3 linked regions of the Homo sapiens genome follow. The gene in region 3 interacts genetically with the main gene of each other region. Each region holds a gene or a part of one and is shown on either strand. Other genes may lie near its edges.

Region 1 (3,658 bases), on a different chromosome or scaffold from region 3:
TGAGAACCATGCGGTGTTCGGTTTTCTGTTCCTGTGTTAGTTTGCTGAAAATGATGGTTTCCAGCTTCACCCGTGTCCCTGCAGAAGACATGAACCCATCCTTTTCTATGGCTGCACAGTATTCCATGTGCCACATTTTCTTCATCCAGTCTATCACTGATGGGCATCTGGGTTGGTTCCAAGTCTTTGCTATTGTGGACAGTGCTGCAATAAACATACGTGTGTATGTGTCTTTATAGTAGAATGATTTATAATCCTTTGGGTATATACCCAGTAATGGGATTGCTGGGTTAAATGGTATTTCTGGTTCTAGATCCTTGAGGAATCGCAACACTGTCTTCCACAATGGTTGAACTAATTTACACTCCCACCAACAGTGTAAAAGCGTTCCTATTTCTCCACATCCTCGCCAGCATCTGTTGTTTCCTGACTTTTTAATGATCGCCATTCTAACTGGCATGAGATGTTATCTCACTGTGGTTTTGATTTGCATTTCTTAAAGAATTACCTTTTCACTAAATACTAAAAAACAGATGTTTTCATAACTATGGGTTTCAGATACATGTTTTATTACATTGAAGTCAGACATTATTTTGAGGAAAGAAACTATTCAATACCATCTTAGGATCTTGCTGTGTACCAAGTATGGAAATTCTCTGGTTCAAAAATTAACTACTCTCTACAGTTAGAATGTTTAACCAATTCTACCAAGTTTTTCATATTCTAATCATAACATTTTTAAAAAAGTTAACAACCAATCCCTCCTTGTGGCATCTGTGAAATTAACTCTTGCTTCTTCCTCCCTTTACCACGCTGGCCACCTCCTCCTTCCTGCAGTTCTCTGCTCCCTGGATTCGGGGCTCTTGTCCCGCTTCTCTGATGGCAACGTTCCTGCCCCACCTTCCCCATCGCCCCCATGACACCCTCCAAGTACACTGTGTCCTCACCTCTCCTCCCATCCCCTGCGGGGCCCTTTCTCTGTCCCATGGGGCTCCCTCCAGAACTCAGCCAGTGTCTCAGCCTCTACCAGCTCCCTGCCACCAGGACATGGGGACTGACACAATTCTTTCTGATCTTGAAGATTCATGAGAGGCACGAAGCTACCAAGTGCTTTCATTTCAGGCTCTGGCTGCCCCGACGGCAGGTGAAAGCCCCGAACCACTGACCTTCCTTCTTTACCAGTGGGGCATTTCCAAACACCACCTCTGCTGAGGGTTACCTGGTGACTAGACATTCACGCACAGCCTTAGACATCACGCACCTGCCTTCTAAATCCTGCCTCTTATAGGCTGGGGGTAAGGATGTGAAGAAATACATTTAAAGTGGGAGCCGATTTCCAGCACTGCCAGTCTCTCAATGATCTGACTCTCAGTTGCAAGATATCAAATAAACTGTTCCCCCTTTGACCTAGCAATTCCGCTTTGGAAATTAATTAACTTTTTATTTAGAGACAGAGTCTCACCCTGTGGCCCAGGCTGGAGTGCAGTGGCACGATCTCAGCTCACTGCAACCTCCACCTCCCGGGTTCAAGTACTTCTCGTGTCTCAGCCTCTCGAGTAGCTGGGATTACAGGTGCACACCTCCACACCCAGCTAATTTTTTGTGTTTTAGTAGAGACAGCGTTTTGCCATGTTGGCCAGACTGGTCTCTAACTCCTGGGCTTAAGTGATCCAGCCTTCCAAAGTATAGGATTACAGGCGTGAGCCACTGCACCCAGCCACAGGAAATATATTTATAAGTAAACAAAACAAAAGCATATATGTTCATAGCAGCACTCTTTTTAACAGCCAGAAGCAATACAAACAGCAATTGGGAAAAGGCTAGAACTGCTAAACAGCCCCATGCGGTGGGAGACTACCCAGTTATGAGAAAGACAAATCAATAGAAAATAGGAAGACAGAGACCTCAGTGAAAATGTTCCTCAAGGACCTCACACCATTCCTTTGACTCATGCCTAAGAGACAAGAGAAGAGCTCTGTTCACTCAACAAATGACAAAGTTCAGCCTCTTTTCAGATAAACGCCCCAGCCCAAAGGCGGCCTCTGACTTCCAATCCAAATCTTTAGTCACTAGTTCCACCCCATTTCACAAAAGGAAGATGCATGGGTGTGACGGGAGGTTAAAGAGGAAGGGAAGCCACAATGACAGACAAATGCTATAATTCAAATCTCACTGACTTAAAAAGTATGTATATGTATATTTTTTTTTCAAAAAAAGAAATCCAGGCCAGGCGTGGTGGCTCACACCTGTAATCCTAGCACTTTGGGAGGCCGAGGAGGGCGGATCACCTGAGATCAGGAGTTCGAGACCAGCCTGGCCAACGTGGTGAAACCCCGTCTCTACTAAAAATACAAAAATTAGCCAGGCATGGTGGTGGGTGTCTGTAATCCCAGCTACTCGGGAGGCTGAGGCAGGAGAATCGCCTGACCCCGGGATGTGGAGGTTGCAGTGAGCGGAGATAGCACCATTGCACTCCAGCCTGTGCAACAAGAGTGAAATTCTGTCTCAAAAAAAAAAAAATCCAGCAAGTTTTTTTTAAAAAGCACCAGAAACACTGCTATGGTTTGAATGTTTGTCCCCTCCAAAACTCATGTTGAAATTTATTTGCCCTTGTAACAGTATTAAGAGGTGAGAACTTGAAGAAGTGATTAGGCCGTGAGGGCCCCACCCTCTTGGATGGGCTTCATGCCTTCTTAAAAGGGCTTTCCGGCCAGGTGCAGTGGCTCACACCTGTAATCCTAGCACTTTGGGAGGCCGAGGCAGGAGGATTGCTTGAGCTCAGGAGTTTGAGACCAGCCTGGGCAACATAGTGAAACCGCATCTCTACTAAAAATAGAAAAAAGAAAAAAATTAGTCATGTGTGGTGGTGCACAGCTGAGTCCCAGCTACCAGGAGGGCTGAGGTGGGAGAACAGCTTGAGCCCAGGAGATCAAGGCTGCACTGAACTATGACCACACCACTGCACTCCAGCCTAGGCGACACAGTGTGACCCTGTCTCCAAAAAAAAAGAAAAAAAAACCCAAGGAGGGGTGGGGGCAGGGGGCTTTTGGCAGGGCTTCTTTCTCTCCCCTTGACCTCTTGCCCTCCACCATGGGATGATGCAGTAAGAGGGCCCTTGCCAGATGCTGGCACCTTGATCTTGGTTTCCAGCCTCCAGCATAGTGAGCAAATACGTTTCTATTCATTATAAATTACCCAACCTGTGGTGTTCTGTTACAGCAGCACAAAACAGACTAAGACAAACACCGTCTAATGCTCTTGGAGGGTCAAACTGCCAAACAGCAGCCCACCACTGGACAATCCACAGGTGGTCTCCACAAAAAGCAGAGAGAACAGGGGTGGAACAGGTGCTGACCATGGACGCCGGTGACAGGTGCATGGGTTCATATGCTCTTCTCTCTACTTCATGTATGTTAGAACATTTCCACTGTAACACATGCTGGTAAAAGCAGTGGTAACTGGCAAAGTATCACAAGACTACATCTCGTCTACATCAAAATTAGGTCAGCTTTACTTAAATTCCTTCATCAGATTCAGGAAAAGGAAATAGCCAGTCATCCTAACTAACACACAAATGAATAGACTGTCTTGTATGCTAAACCACAGTGAATTGTGAAAATGGGCAAAAATGTCCAGAGAGAATGGTGATTAGAGGAAG
Region 2 (3,658 bases), on a different chromosome or scaffold from region 3:
ATCCTGATATCAAAGACAAACACACGAGAAAACTATAGGCCAAATCCTTTAACACAGATGCAAAAATCGTCAACAAAACACTAGCAAACCAGATTTGACATCGCATTAAAAGAATCATGTACTATGATTAAGTGGGATTTATCCCTAGGATGCAAGGATAGTTCAACATATGCAAATCAATAGATGTGACATACCACACTGACAGAATGAAGGATAAAAAACACATCTCAAAAAATGCAGAAAAAGTACTTGACAAAATTCAACATCCTTTCATGATCAAAACTATCAACAGAAGGAATGTACTTCAACCCAACAATGGCCAAAAAGGACAAGTCTAGTATACTGAACATGGAAAACGTGAAAGCTTTTCCTCTAATACCTAGAACCAGACAAGGATGCCCGCTCTTGCCACTTCTATTCATTGTAGTACTGGAAGTCCTAGCCAGAGCAATGAGGCAAGAAGGAATAAGCAACATCCAAAAAGGAAAGGAGTAAGTAAAACTATCTGTTTACAGATCATATAATCTTACCTCCAGCAAACCCTAAAGATTTCTAACACACAAGTGTCAGAATACATGAATTCTACTAAGTTGGAGGATACAAAAATCAGCTCTTTCTACACACCAACAATGAAGGAAATAAAGGAATGCCTAATAAAGGAAATTAAGAAAATAATTCTATTTATAATAGCACCAAAAATAATACTTAGGAATGTATTTAATCAGGAATATGAAAGACTTAAACACTGACCTAGATGAAACAGATATATACCTGTATACTGCTAAAAAAATTAGCAAATCTCATTCATGCAATCCCCATGGTAACCACAAAGAAAATACAGAATATACACATAAGGAAGTAAGAAGGAAACTGAAACATGTCACTATAAAATAAAGGAAAAGTACGGAAAGAAATGTGTGTCCTTGGACACATTGTTTTGATTATAGTAGTCTCCTTTTATCCAAGGTGATATGTTTCAAGACCCTTCCAGTGAATTACTGAAACTATGGATGGTACCAAACCCTATACAGCTACGTTTTTTCCTATATATACACATACCTATAATAAAGCTTAACTCATAAATTAGGCATAGTAAGAGAGTAGCAACACTAAAAGAAATTAAAGATGCAAACTACTGCTAAAAGAAATTAAAGATACAAATAAGAGGAAAGACATCCTGTGTTCATGGATTGGAATACTTAATATTGTTACGATGTCCATACTACCAAAGTAATCTACAGATTTAATGCAATCCCTATCAAAATCCCAATGGCATTTTTACAGAAATAGAAAAATCCATCCTAAAATTCACAGACTCTTAAGGAACCACAAATAGCTAGAGCACCCTCCGGGTGGGGTGAAAGAAAGAACAAAGCTAGAGGACTCACACTTACTGATTTTAAAGCATACTACAAAGCTACAGTGTAGCAGTCATCCCTTATTTGTGGTTTAACCTTCCACCGCTTTAGTTCTACCCACAGTCAACTGTGGTTCAAAAACAGGTGAGTACAGTACAGCAAGATATTGAGAGATCACATTCACCTTTTATTACTATACACTACAATTGTTCTATTTTGTTATTGTTGCTCATCTCTTACTATGTCTAATTTATGAGTTAAACGTCATCATAGGTATGTACGTACACGAAAAACAACATAATATATACAGGGTTTGGTACTATCTGTGGTTTCAAGAATCCACTAGAGGGGTCTTGAAACATATCTTAGATAAAACGGACTACTGTAATCAAAACAGTGTAGTACTGCCCCGAAGACAGACATACAGACTAAAGAAATAGCCCAGAAATAAACTCTCGCATTTAGAGTCAAATGATTTCACCAAGGTACCAAGACCACTCCATGGAAGAGGACAATCTTAAATGATTTCGGGAAAACTGGATACCACATGTAAAAGAATACAGTTGGATCTTTACACCCTACACAAAAATTCAAGTGAATCAAAGATCTAAACATAAGAGCTAAAACTATAAAAGTCTTAGAAGAACACATAAAAAAGACTTCATGACATTGGATTTGGCAATGATTTATTGAATATGACACTAAAAGCACACAGAACAAAAATAAAAATAAATTCGACATCAAAATTTCTGTGCATCAAGGGACACAACAGAGTGAAAAGGCAACCTATGAAATGGGAGAAAATATTTACAAATCATATCTGATAAGGGGTTAATATCCAGAATATATACAGAACAACTCAACCAATAAACAAAAAACCAAATTTGAAAATGAGCAGAACTGAATAAACATTTCTCCAAAGATAACATACAAATGGCCAATAAGTACATGAAAAGATGCTCAAGAACACAAATAATCAGGGAAATGCAAATCAAAACCACAATGATACCACCTCATACCTATTAGGATGGCTACTATCAAAAAATACCAAAATTATGCCAGGCACAGTGGCTCACGCCTGTAATCCCAACACTTTGGGAGGCCAAGGTGGACGGATCGCCTGAGCCCAGGAATTCAAGCACAGCCCAGGTAATATGGTGAAACCCTGTCTCTACTAAAAATAAAGAAGTTAGCCAGGTGTGGTGGCACATGCCTATAGTGCCAGCTTCTTGGGAGGCTGAGGCAGGAAGATCCCTTGAGCCTGGGAGGTTGAGGCTGCAGTGAGCCATGATCGCACTACAGCACTACGGCCTGGGTGACAGAGGGAGACCCTGTTAAAAAAAAAATTAACAAGTGTTGGGGAGGATGGAAAGAGTGTAAAATGGTGCAGCCACTATGGAAAAGGGTATGGCAGTTTCTTAAGAAATTAAAAATCATATGATCCAGGAATTCCACTTTTGAATATACCCCAAAAGAATTGATAGCAAGGCCTTGAAGGAATATTTGCATGCCTAGGTTCACAGCATCACTCACAACAATCAAAAAGTGGAAGCAACCCAAGCATCTACTGATGGATGAATGGATAACAATGTGACACAACTAAAATAGATCATTCAGCTTTAAAAAGAAAGGAAATTCTGACACATGCTGTAACATGGATGAACCTTGAGTACACTACGCTAAGTGAAATAAGCCAGTCACAAGAAAACAAATACTGTGTGATTCTACTTATGAGATGCCTGGGGTAGCCAAATTCTTAGAAAGTAACACAGTGGCTGCCAGGGTCTGAGTGGAGGTGTGAATGGGTTGCTTAATGGATATAGGGTTTCAATTCTGTAAGATGACGAGTTCTGGAGACTGGTTGCACAACAATGTGAATGAACTTAACACTACTAAACTGTACAATTAAAAATGGTTAAGATGGCAAATTTTATATTATAGATGCTCCTTAACTTACCATCAGGTTACATTCTGATAAAACCATCATAAGTTTAAAATATCTTAAGTTGAAAATGCATTTAATACACCTAACTTACATCATAGCTTAGCCTTCCCTACCTTAAATGTGCTCAGAACACTTATGTTAGCCTACAGCTGAAGAAAATCATCTAACACAAAGCCTAGCTTATAATAAAACACTGAGTATCTCACACAACACTACAGAGTACAGCATCAGCTGTTTACCCTTGTGATTATGTTTCTGACTGGGGGATGTGGTCATTGGTGCTCCCCCACATCACAAAAGTATTGTGCCACTTATTGCTCATGTGGACAAAGATCAAAATTCAAAGTATGGTTTC
Region 3 (2,985 bases):
AGAAATGGAAAGTTACAATTAAAAGAAAAAGTTTATGTATTCATTGCTTATAGTGAAAGGGAGGAAGGAAAATGCAAATATTTTGTCTAAAACCATGCTATTGTATTATAAGTCTTTTTTGGAACTGTAAATATTTCATTATGTAGAATCAAACATACAGATTTGGGTAGTAGACTGACCATAGAGATCTCCATTAAATAAACTGTTTACACTTTTGTAGATTTTGAGGCATTATGTTGCATTATATTATGATGTGTTAAAAGCCTTTTACCCATTCTTCCTTTCTGCTAAGCAGAGGTTAATATATTTTCTGCCTTTCTGTTATAGAACAAGTTATGATTCACTTATTTGGCATAATATGGCTACTGCTTCTTCTATAATCTTGAACTTTCAAGGCAAATTTTATATTCCTGGTTTCACATCAAGCTATAATTACAGTTTTTTAAAATTAGAGCTCATTTGACTCTTTTAGGTAGCTCTGAGCCCAGTATGATATCAGTTTTTTGGTGTGGCATTGAGATTGGTAATAATGTTTGATCCATTTAAAATTATGGTACATCAACTACATCTGGAAAAACACAAAGGGGAACCCAGAGGCTCGTGTGAGCAGTTTTCATCAGATCTTTACTTCAGAATGTGTTACCAAAACTTTAAATTAGAGGTGTCTCCTAAAGTTGAATGATTGGCAAATCTTTATTGGAATCAACTTATTGTGACATAAAAAGAATTGTTAGAGGCCATATGAGAATGAGATGGGTCAACACCACCTCACTAGTTGACTTGGTGTGAGCCTTACAACCCTCTGAATCATGGGTTCCCTATATTCTCATTATGTACCAGGCTGGTTGCCAATAGTGTCTTGTTGGACTTGACAGCTGAAATGCTTAGACTTTAAAGCCATTATTAAAATAAAAGTACTGGATATATATTGATCTCAAGAGTTTAACATGCAAATTCTTTCTCAAAGCATTTCTGCTTTAAGAAAGATGCCCTTTTCAGTAAATGGCATCAATAAATGCCCTTTCAGATCAATAAATGCCCTTTTCAACATATTTAGCATTCACAAATTCAGTTAAGTAATAAAAGTAACTATGCCCATGCTTTCTTTTATAGCTGATTAATAATTGCATATTGACACATGCCATCTTATTGATGATGTATACTGCCTCAGCAAGCTTCTTCCTTTTGGTCATATTTCTCTGATCTTGTTTTTTTTCTCCCGCATTGGTTTCATTTTCATTCCTGCTTTTTCTTCTTGACATATATATATATATATATATATATATATATATATATATATATATATATGTTAAGACAGCTTGCAGAACTGCCCTGCCCCCACTTTTATTAATTTGAAAAGCAAATAACTCTGAAGTAAACAGTATGCCTGTGATCTTTTGTGCAGTCTGTATTTCTGCCCAGACTCCCTATTTGTGTCCCTGTAATGTCTGGGAGGAGGCCAGGGTATAGAAGCCATTGCAGTGGAGAGCCACATAGAGAAGAGCCATTGGAAGCAGCTCTGGAGGCACCCCTCCCCAGGCCCTGCCTGCGCCTGCCTCACTGCGAGGACTTCTCCCCTCTCAGAGCCACTCACCACAGTTGCCAGACGTGCAGTGCTTTATTTTCTGCTGGACTGGAGCATTTAGCTTGTTAATGTTTCTTTAGAAAGATAATTGTTTCTAGTTAAACATGTTGTTTGAAAAATATACCCAGATGTATATTTTTATGTCGTGGTGCTATAATTTCTACTTTTTTCCCCTTCAAAATATCTAAGTTACTGGAAAATTTCAACTTAGGAACAAATCTGTTGGAGAAAGTGAGGTATGTTTAAGTGTTTATTTCTTAAGGAAAGTAAATGTTCTACATAAAAAATGATTATTGAGATAATCACTGTTAACTAATTTAAAAACAAAAAATGTCATTTAAGAGGCCCATATAGCATCAATATCAAGTAAACAATTATGTCACCTTTTGCTTTAGGAAACCAAATATCACTGCTAACCCATATGTCGTCTTTTTATTTTTTCTTCAGGGTATGACAAGGCAGCAAAGATTGCTAAGACAGCACACAAAAATGGATCAACCTTAAAGGAAACTGCTATCGAACTTGGCTATCTCACAGCAGAGCAGTTTGACGAATGGGTAAAACCTAAGGACATGCTGGGTCCAAAGTGATTTACATAAATTTATAATGAAAATAAACATGTATAAAATTTAAAAAAACAGACTCCCATTTCTTAAAAACGGATAAGTTTGAAAGGAAACTGCTATTGAACTTAAGCATCTCTAGCAGAGCAATTTGATCAGTATATAAAACCCTAGGATGTGCTAGGTCTAAGATGGATTAAACAAGTATAAAATAAAATACATTTATAAAATAAAAAGGAAAACAGACTTAAATTTTCTCCTATGTTAATTGACTTGTATTATAGTTGAATCTATGATATTTGTGCATGTTGTCTTTGTGACTTCATAAGTTACCAATTTCTAAAGGGTTTTAATTTTGGAGGTTATTGGTGGTTTAAAAAATTGCCCGATTATATCTTATTATCTCATTCCCAAACTATGTCCTTAGCCATCTTTTATTTTCCTTTGATTTGGAGACACAGTGACCAAGCCCTTTTGAGTGGGGATGTGTATATGTGTGTGTGTGTGTGCACGCACGTGTGTGTGTGTGATAGAATAGGTTAAGAAAATTGGGACATACATATCCTGTGTGTTAAACACACACCTATCCCTCCAACCTTGTTTCTGTTACCACAGAGGGACCAGATCAAGGCCAGGCATGGTGGGTCAGGGACACCGACTTTAGGAGACTGCGCTTTGGGAAACTGAGGCAGAAAGATCATTTGAGCCTAGGAGTTTGAGACCAGCCTGGGCAGCATAATGAGATCCCTATCTCTACAAAAAATAAAACAAAAATTAGGCAGGCTTGGTAGTGTGTGCCTGTAATCCCAGCTACTCAGGAAGCTAAGGTGGTAGGAT

The links.
Region 1: changes in FH (region 3) and CARS2 together harm fitness less than expected from each alone (positive genetic interaction), as found in Homo sapiens cells (one large-scale study listed by BioGRID).
Region 2: changes in FH (region 3) and COX6C together harm fitness less than expected from each alone (positive genetic interaction), as found in Homo sapiens cells (one large-scale study listed by BioGRID).

Annotation. Positions count from the first base shown.
Region 1 is NC_000013.11:110,696,014-110,699,671, forward strand, and holds part of CARS2 (probable cysteine--tRNA ligase, mitochondrial), read right to left. Parts: intron 1,955-3,658; exon of another isoform or gene 1,953-1,954; coding exon of another isoform or gene 1,905-1,952; intron 1-1,904. UniProt on the Homo sapiens protein: Mitochondrial cysteine-specific aminoacyl-tRNA synthetase that catalyzes the ATP-dependent ligation of cysteine to tRNA(Cys). In addition to its role as an aminoacyl-tRNA synthetase, has also cysteine persulfide synthase activity.
Region 2 is NC_000008.11:99,883,694-99,887,351, forward strand, and holds part of COX6C (cytochrome c oxidase subunit 6C), read right to left. Parts: intron 1-3,658. UniProt on the Homo sapiens protein: Component of the cytochrome c oxidase, the last enzyme in the mitochondrial electron transport chain which drives oxidative phosphorylation.
Region 3 is NC_000001.11:241,497,018-241,500,002, reverse strand, and holds the end of FH (fumarate hydratase, mitochondrial), read left to right. Parts: intron 1-2,032; coding exon 2,033-2,175; 3' UTR 2,176-2,400; downstream 2,401-2,985. UniProt on the Homo sapiens protein: Catalyzes the reversible stereospecific interconversion of fumarate to L-malate. Experiments in other species have demonstrated that specific isoforms of this protein act in defined pathways and favor one direction over the other.